2 linked regions of the Homo sapiens genome follow. The protein of the gene in region 2 interacts with the protein of the main gene of each other region in a pairwise test. Each region holds a gene or a part of one and is shown on either strand. Other genes may lie near its edges.

Region 1 (3,655 bases), on a different chromosome or scaffold from region 2:
CCATGTGTTGTGGGAGGAACCTGGTGGGAGGCAGTTAAATCATGGGGGTGGGTCTTTCCCATGGTGTTCTTGTGATAGTGAGTGGGTCTCATGAGATCTGATGGTTTTATAAATGGGAATTTCCCTGCGCAAGCTCTCTTGTCTGCTGCCATGTTAGACGTGCCTTTCACCTTCCACAGTGATTGTGAGGCCTCCCCAGCTACATGGAACTGTAAGTCCATTAAACCTCTTTGTTTTGTAAACTGCCCAATCTTGGGTATGTCTTTATCAGCAGCATGAAAACAGACTAGTACACTCTCTCTCACATTTTCCTTGGCTCTCCTCTTATAAGGACACTTGTCTTGGGATTTAGGATCCACCCTAAATCCAGGGTGATCTCATCTTGAGATCCTTTACTTTAATTACATCTGCAAAGATCTATTTCCAAATAAGCTCACATTCTGAGGTTCTAGGTGGACATAAATTTCGGGGGATAAATATTCAGACCACTATAGTGACATATACACAACTTACAATAAAAATATAAATGTACCATCGAGTCAGTTGTCTGAGAGGTAGCAGACGACCTCTTTAAAGGCTCACACTAGCTGTGAAATCAGGCTCCTCGCTGTGTGGCCTGCTGTCAGAGTGAACTTCAGCAAATACCACAGGAGCCCCTGACAGCATCTTCTCTGACACAGGGAAAGATAAAAAGCAGGAATATAAAAACCTGTCACCCATCTATTTCCATATTCCTTCTATCTGAATATTTCTTTCTCCCCTGCCCCCATCTCTTTCCATATGTCAGTTTAGCAGGCACCTAAGGAAGGCAACAGTGCCACTCTCAATATAATATTTATGAGATGGTTAAAGAATAATAACTGTGGTATCTATTTTAATTTCCATTTTAATCTTTTGTCCTACTTTTGAAAAAAAAAGGTCTAAAAAAGTACTGTAATTCAAGCACAAATATAAGCATACATACTTAATACTTTTTTTTAAGACTTAGGGTCTCACTTGGTCCCCCAGGCTACAGTACAGTGGTGTAATCAGGACTCACTGCAGCCTCAAATTCCTGGGCTCAATCGATCCTCCTGCCTCAGCCTCCTGAGTTGCTAGGACTACAGGCATGCACCACCATGCTTGGCTGTTTTTTTTTAATTTTTTGTAGAGATGGGGGTCTCACTGTCTCTGCAGGATTATGCCCAGGCTTGTCTGGAACTCCTGGCCTCAAAAGGGATCCTCCTGCCTCGGCCTCCAAAAGCACTGAGATTACAAGTGTGAGCAAACACACTCAGCTGCATAATTAATACTCTGGAAGGAGCTTTCTTGTTATTACTGTTGTTCTTGGTTGGAGGGGTGTGGGAAGGGGAGCCGTGTTGGGGGAGTTTAGTGTTACACATGCTGAGTGCAAAGCACACCTGGGGAGGACGGGAGGCCTCAATGAGGATGTGGGGAGCATGTCCAGGGCTGACCTTGAGATGAAAAACCAAATTTAGAATTTTCTCTTCCTAAATATTTTGAGCCTCATATTTGTAGCCCTTCATAAAAAGCTTCTTCATAGCCCTCATATTAATGACACAACCAAACATGAGAGTTAAGAATTAAGGAGTTAGTAGTTAATATTTAAGGAATAGCCTGGGGGTCCTGCAGACCTGGGTTTGAATAAGACCTTGGGCAGGTTGCTTAACCACACCTAGCCTCAGTTTCCCCAGCTGTAAAATGGACAAATGTCTCTAGTTCATGTTATTGTGAGGATTACATGAGACACTCAGCAGTGTGCTTTGCTGTGGAATAACCCCTGACCATGTTAGTTATCAGAGTCTCACTAGGTCCTAGGAGGAGGCAGGAGATACCTGTATTCCCATATGATAGCCTCAAAGAAGTCAAAAGCACACACAGCCAGTGCTGCAGGGCTGGAGACATAAATGGAAATCAAACAACTGCAAATCCCTGTTAATTCTCAGTGTAATTAAATTCCTGGTAGAATAATAAGGTGTTTCATTGTTCTCCCAAACTATAATCCAACCAGCAAATTATGTTTGAGTTTTTTAAACCATCTGAACCATAAGAGAATTCATACCAATTCTGAGTATAAAATTTCTATTATGTTGGGGAGGTAACTGTCCCCAAGTCACAGGCAGAGCCAATGAAGCCCAACAGGCACTGATGTTTAGAATCCGCAACAAAAAGGCTAAGACTCAGTAGAATGTAATCTAAATCATGAACAGGCCAAATCTGCCCCTCAGCCTGTGCTTGAAAATAAAGTTTTATTGGAACACAGCCATGCTCATTCATTTGTGTATAGCTGTGACAAAGATGGCATGGCCCATAAAGCCTAAACCATTTACTATGTTGCACTTTACAGAAAATGTTTGCCAACCTCTGCTGTAACAGAAGACATATAATGGGGCAGCATTGAGGAGAACCTGAAAATATCTTAAAATGCCAAATTGCATTCCTAGCGTTCTTGTTACTTTCAGTCTCATGAAATAGGGGTGCTTTATTTTCCATGATGTAGCATGGAAGGTAAATCCCCCAAGTGACATGAGCAAGAGGATCTTTTTTTTTTTGAGATGGAGTCTCGCTCTGTCGCCCAGGCTGGAGTGCTGGAGTGCAGTGTCGCAATCTCGGCTCACTGCAAGCTCCACCTCCCAGGTTCACGCCGTTCTCCTGCCTCAGCCTCCCGAGTAGCTGGGACTGCAGGCGCCCGCCACCACGCCCAGCTAATTTTTTTTTTTGTATTTTTAGTAGACACGGGGTTTCACCGTGTTAGCCAGGATGGTCTCGATCTCCTGACCTCGTGATCCGCCCGCCTTGGCCTCCCAAAGTGCTGGGATTACAGGCATGAGCCACCGTGCCTGCCCTGGAGGATCTTAAAGTTAGGAGGCATTTCTCCCAAGAAAGCCACTGGAGGATCCTGACACTCAGCCACAGTAGTCTCTGTGGCCTCAATAGCTTTTTCTCCCCCATGATGAAATTCCGCACGTCTACAGACAGTAAGGACTCACTCGGATTTTCTCTTCTTCCAGGGTTGGTGCTGGCCTCGATCCTTGCTCCAGTTCCTCCTTTTCTGCCACTTTCTTCCAGATGTCTTTAGTCTGCTGGTTATCCGGAGCCTGCAGATCATGGTACTGTGATTTTGTTTTCAAGCTATTGGTGAATTCTTCAGAGTGAGTTTTTCTGAAGAGAGGCAAAAGTGAAATTCTCAAAAAACATTCTTCAACAGGAAGAGCCTTTCCAAAGCATATGTCGACATTCAAATTATGTGAAAAACAGTAACTGACACCACTTACTGAGTGCTTCTAACATGCTGGGCCCTTTGCTAGGTGTGTAAAGACGTTAACTTCATCCTCATCACAACCCTGTGAGGAAGGCATTGTCATCCTCACTTTGTTATAAGAGCTCCAAGAAATTTTGTAATTCATCCAAGACCACATAGTGGTACAGCCAAGATCTGAACCCTGGTCTGCTCAACTCCTGGTTTAGAAGTTAACCTATTAGAACCACACCGTCTGCTTCCAATCGATGATTAAATAATTCCTTTATCTTCATATGTCCATGGATAGTTTTAAAGTTACAGGCACTAGTGGGCAGCATCCCAGCCCTTGAAAGTCCAATGCACCATCCACTGTGCCACAGAGTCTGCTTTGCATCCCTAGCCCTTGGGAACTGA
Region 2 (3,655 bases):
AGCATCAGGCAGATTTCAAAGCTATGGGAGGTGACGCTTGTGAATGTCCCTCCTAGCTCAGTCTGAAGCAATCTTTCCATTCAAATGTTCAAACCCTCTCCCTCCTTTCAGGCAAAAAAAAAAAAAAAAAAAAGCCAGCATTCCAGGCAGCTGCCAGCTCTACCCCTAGTTACACTCTCAATCTCACACAGCCCGGCCACAAGATTTATCAGGAAGCCAGTTAGCAGCTTAAGCCTGGAAATAATGTCACCCAAACCCCCAGCACACCAAGGGAACTTCTGAGAGCAGCTCTCGCTAGCGGCATTCTTTCACCCTCCTTAGTCCCCCAGTTCTAGCTGCGCACGGATGCCAGGAGGCTCTTGAGGGAGTGGGTGTCACACAGGCAGAAAGGAGGGAACCAGGGAGATGGGACCATGACGGACGGCTTTTTACTGCTTTCTTCCAGATGATTCAACTTTCCCCAGCTCAGGCCCTCAACCAGTCTATGGCCAGTTCATGACAAGAAGTAAAAACTCACAAACTGCCCACTCAAGCCCAAACCAATTTTGAACAAGTTCCCAAAAGGTTTTGCAGGGAGATGAACTAGCCTGGAACCCACTAAGGTTCTTACCATTATCACCAACGAGAGATCAGAAACTCAGAACCAACAACACAGCCTCGCCTGTTAGAAAGTAAGTTTATCTTTTCCAGCACTCTCTCCCGCATCCTCCCGGCCTCTGTTGATCAATTTAGAAAGGACACCGTAAGAACCCTTGGAAGTCTAGAGCCTGGTTTAAAGCAGGGTTTCTTAAGCTCAACTCTACTGACGTAGGGCTGGAGAATTCTTCCTTTGCAGCGGGGGGAAGCTGTCCTATGCATTGTAGGATGCTTGGCAACCATCCCTGGCCCCTATCCCCTCGATGCCATGAGCATTCTCTCCCAAAGTTGCGATAACAACTGTCTCCGACATTGCCAAGCCAAGGAAGGGGTCTGCGCCATCCCCGGCTGACAGCGCTGATGGGCGCGTGCCCCTCCTTCAGGAGCCCCGATGCCTGTGGCTCTCAACTATTAAATCAAGTTCCAGCAAAGAACTGGAAACCTTTAAGCTGTGTATGGAACCATTGTGTGTAGCACTGGAAACTGTCCCTTTTCTAAGTCACTGTAAATGGTGTTTTTTTTTGGAGACAGGGTCTGGCTCTGTCTCCCAGGCTGGAGTGCAGTGCTACAATCAGGGCTCCCTGCAGCCCTGACCTCCTCAGGTGCAAGCGATAAAGGTTCCTCGTGATCAGCTGGAAGGTACTTTTGAATTAAAGGTTCACACTGAAGAACCTAAGTGGATAGTGGCATTTGAGGCCAGCAGTGAAAGTGTTTCCTCTCAAAGAGTTCCCTACACAGCAGCAGACATGGTTATTCTGAGAGTCATGTATGTTCTGTGTTTCTCTGTGAACCATGTTTCAGTCTTTGTTTCTGTCATCATATGTACGGGAAATTCCATAGAGACTACATCACACAAAACTGACATTGTCAATTACCAGGAAATACAGGTGCTCACCTTTTGAAGGCTTATTCATACATATGGTTGCCACAATACGTATATATGATAAACAGTGTATGTATACATACAAGTTGTTTAGGCCAGGCACGGTGGCTCACACCTGTAATCCCAGCACTTTGGGAGGCTGAGGCGGGCAGATCATGAGGTCAGGAGTTCAACACCAGCCTGACCAACATGGTGAAACCCTGTCTCTACTAAAAATACAAAAAAAATTAGCCGGGTGTGGTGGCGCACCTGTAATCCCAGCTACTCAGGAGGCTGAGGCAAGAGAATCGCTTGAACCCGGGAGGCGGAGGTTGGTCTCAGTAAGCCAAGATTGCGCCACTGCACTCCAGCCTGGGTGACAGAGCAAGACTCTGTCTCAAAATATATATATATATATACAGTTGTCACAATATGTATATGATAAACGGTGTACATATACACATAAAATGTTTATGGTGGATCTAGCTCCCCCCTAAAAAAGAAGCCCAGATACTGAAAGACACTCGAATTTTCCTAAAGACTTGAGGGTGGGCTCGACCTTAGGGTCTGGATGCTGAGTTTTATGTAAATATCTACCTGTGGGGCGGGGTGCCATGGCTCATGCCTGTAATCTCAGCACTTTGGGAGACTGAGGCAGGTAGATCACCCGAGGTCAAGAGTTCGAGACCAGCCTGGCCAACATGGTGAAACCCCGTCTCTACTAAAAATACAAAAAAATTAGCGGGGCATGGTGGTGGGTGCCTGTAATCGCAGCTACTCGGGAGGCTGAGGCAGGAGAATTGCTTGAACAGAGGAGGCGGAGGTTGCAGTGAGCCGAGATCGTGCCATTGTACTCCAGCCTGGGCAACAAGAGAGAAGCTCCGTCTCAAAAACAAACAAACAAACAAAAACAAACTACACATGTGGCTATCTGTGTTTAGCAAACTAGGAAAATCTTTGTTTTATTTTATATTTTACTTTTTTTTTTTTTGAGACGAAGTCTCGCTCTCATCCACCAGGCTGGAGTGCTTCCCAAACTGCTGGGATTAAAGGCGTGAGCCACCACACCTGGCCAAACTAGGAAAATCGTAAGAATGGCTCAGTGGGGATTTTTTTGTTCCTTTGTTTTGGTATAATTATCCTCATTTTTTTTCCAAATCTTCAAGCAGGGTTTCTCAAATTTTGGTACTATTGACATTTGGGGCCAGGTAATTCTTGGGGGCAGTGGGGAGATGCTGCCCTGGGCACCGGAGGATGTCCAGCAATATCGTCTACCTACTAGTAGCCAGCAGCACCGCACCAAGCTGTGACAACCAAAAAGGTCCCAGACATTGTCAATGTCCCCTGGAGGACAGAACTGGCCCTGTTTTACAGGAAGATAAATGTCCCCTAATCCTTTTGTGTAAAAGGGGGAATGTTTTTTACCCTTAGACCGGATAAGCAAGACCAGCTGAGACCTACTGGTATAAAGCATACTGCCTGCTCACATGGTGAGAACTCAATAAATGTTTGTATCACTACGTAATGAGAGATCCCGAGAGATGTCACTTTCCAACAGGCACAGCAGAGGGTGAAAGAGTTGTTATTAGACTAAAAACAAAAAAAGAGACACAAATAGTCGGATACGTCCAGATAACAGCTGAGATGTCAGAGGGAACCATGGCAATGATCACAGAAGAGCATGGAACGCAGCCAGGGTGACTTCTAAGAGCACGACTCAGGACAGAATTGACCAGGAGGCCAAGACGACAGCCCCGAGGGTGGGCTGTGGCCATTGTGCTTTGGGACTAGGCCTCGGGATGTGGAAATAGGCAATCCTAAGCCCAGCTAACACCACACTGTCCTTTCCAGGCTTCAAGGCGCCATTCACAGATCTGAACGCAGGTCATCCTGCTTCCCTTGAGAGAGACAAAGTCCTGGTGGCCGGCACAAGAGGCCTGGTTCATTCCTCTAAAGAGGGTGTCAGCTCAGGACAATATGGGCACAGGCCCTGATCGCTGGGAGTGGGGGTGGTGGCTTCCAGAGACCTGTCTATAGCAGGGAACAAAGTGGCCCAGGAATTCCTCCAAGACCTCTGAGGACATCTTTCCTGCTAGGGAGCAGTACTCTATGGTGCTCTAACCAAGCAGGTGAAGGTCTGACGCCTGCTGGGCAAGG

The links.
Region 1: the proteins of SH3GL1 (region 2) and SH2D4A interact in binary tests that used the Homo sapiens proteins (3 or more experiments, as listed by UniProt).

Annotation. Positions count from the first base shown.
Region 1 is NC_000008.11:19,334,193-19,337,847, reverse strand, and holds part of SH2D4A (SH2 domain-containing protein 4A), read right to left. Parts: intron 3,163-3,655; coding exon 2,991-3,162; intron 1-2,990. UniProt on the Homo sapiens protein: Inhibits estrogen-induced cell proliferation by competing with PLCG for binding to ESR1, blocking the effect of estrogen on PLCG and repressing estrogen-induced proliferation. May play a role in T-cell development and function.
Region 2 is NC_000019.10:4,394,014-4,397,668, forward strand, and holds part of SH3GL1 (endophilin-A2), read right to left. Parts: intron 1-3,655. UniProt on the Homo sapiens protein: Implicated in endocytosis. May recruit other proteins to membranes with high curvature.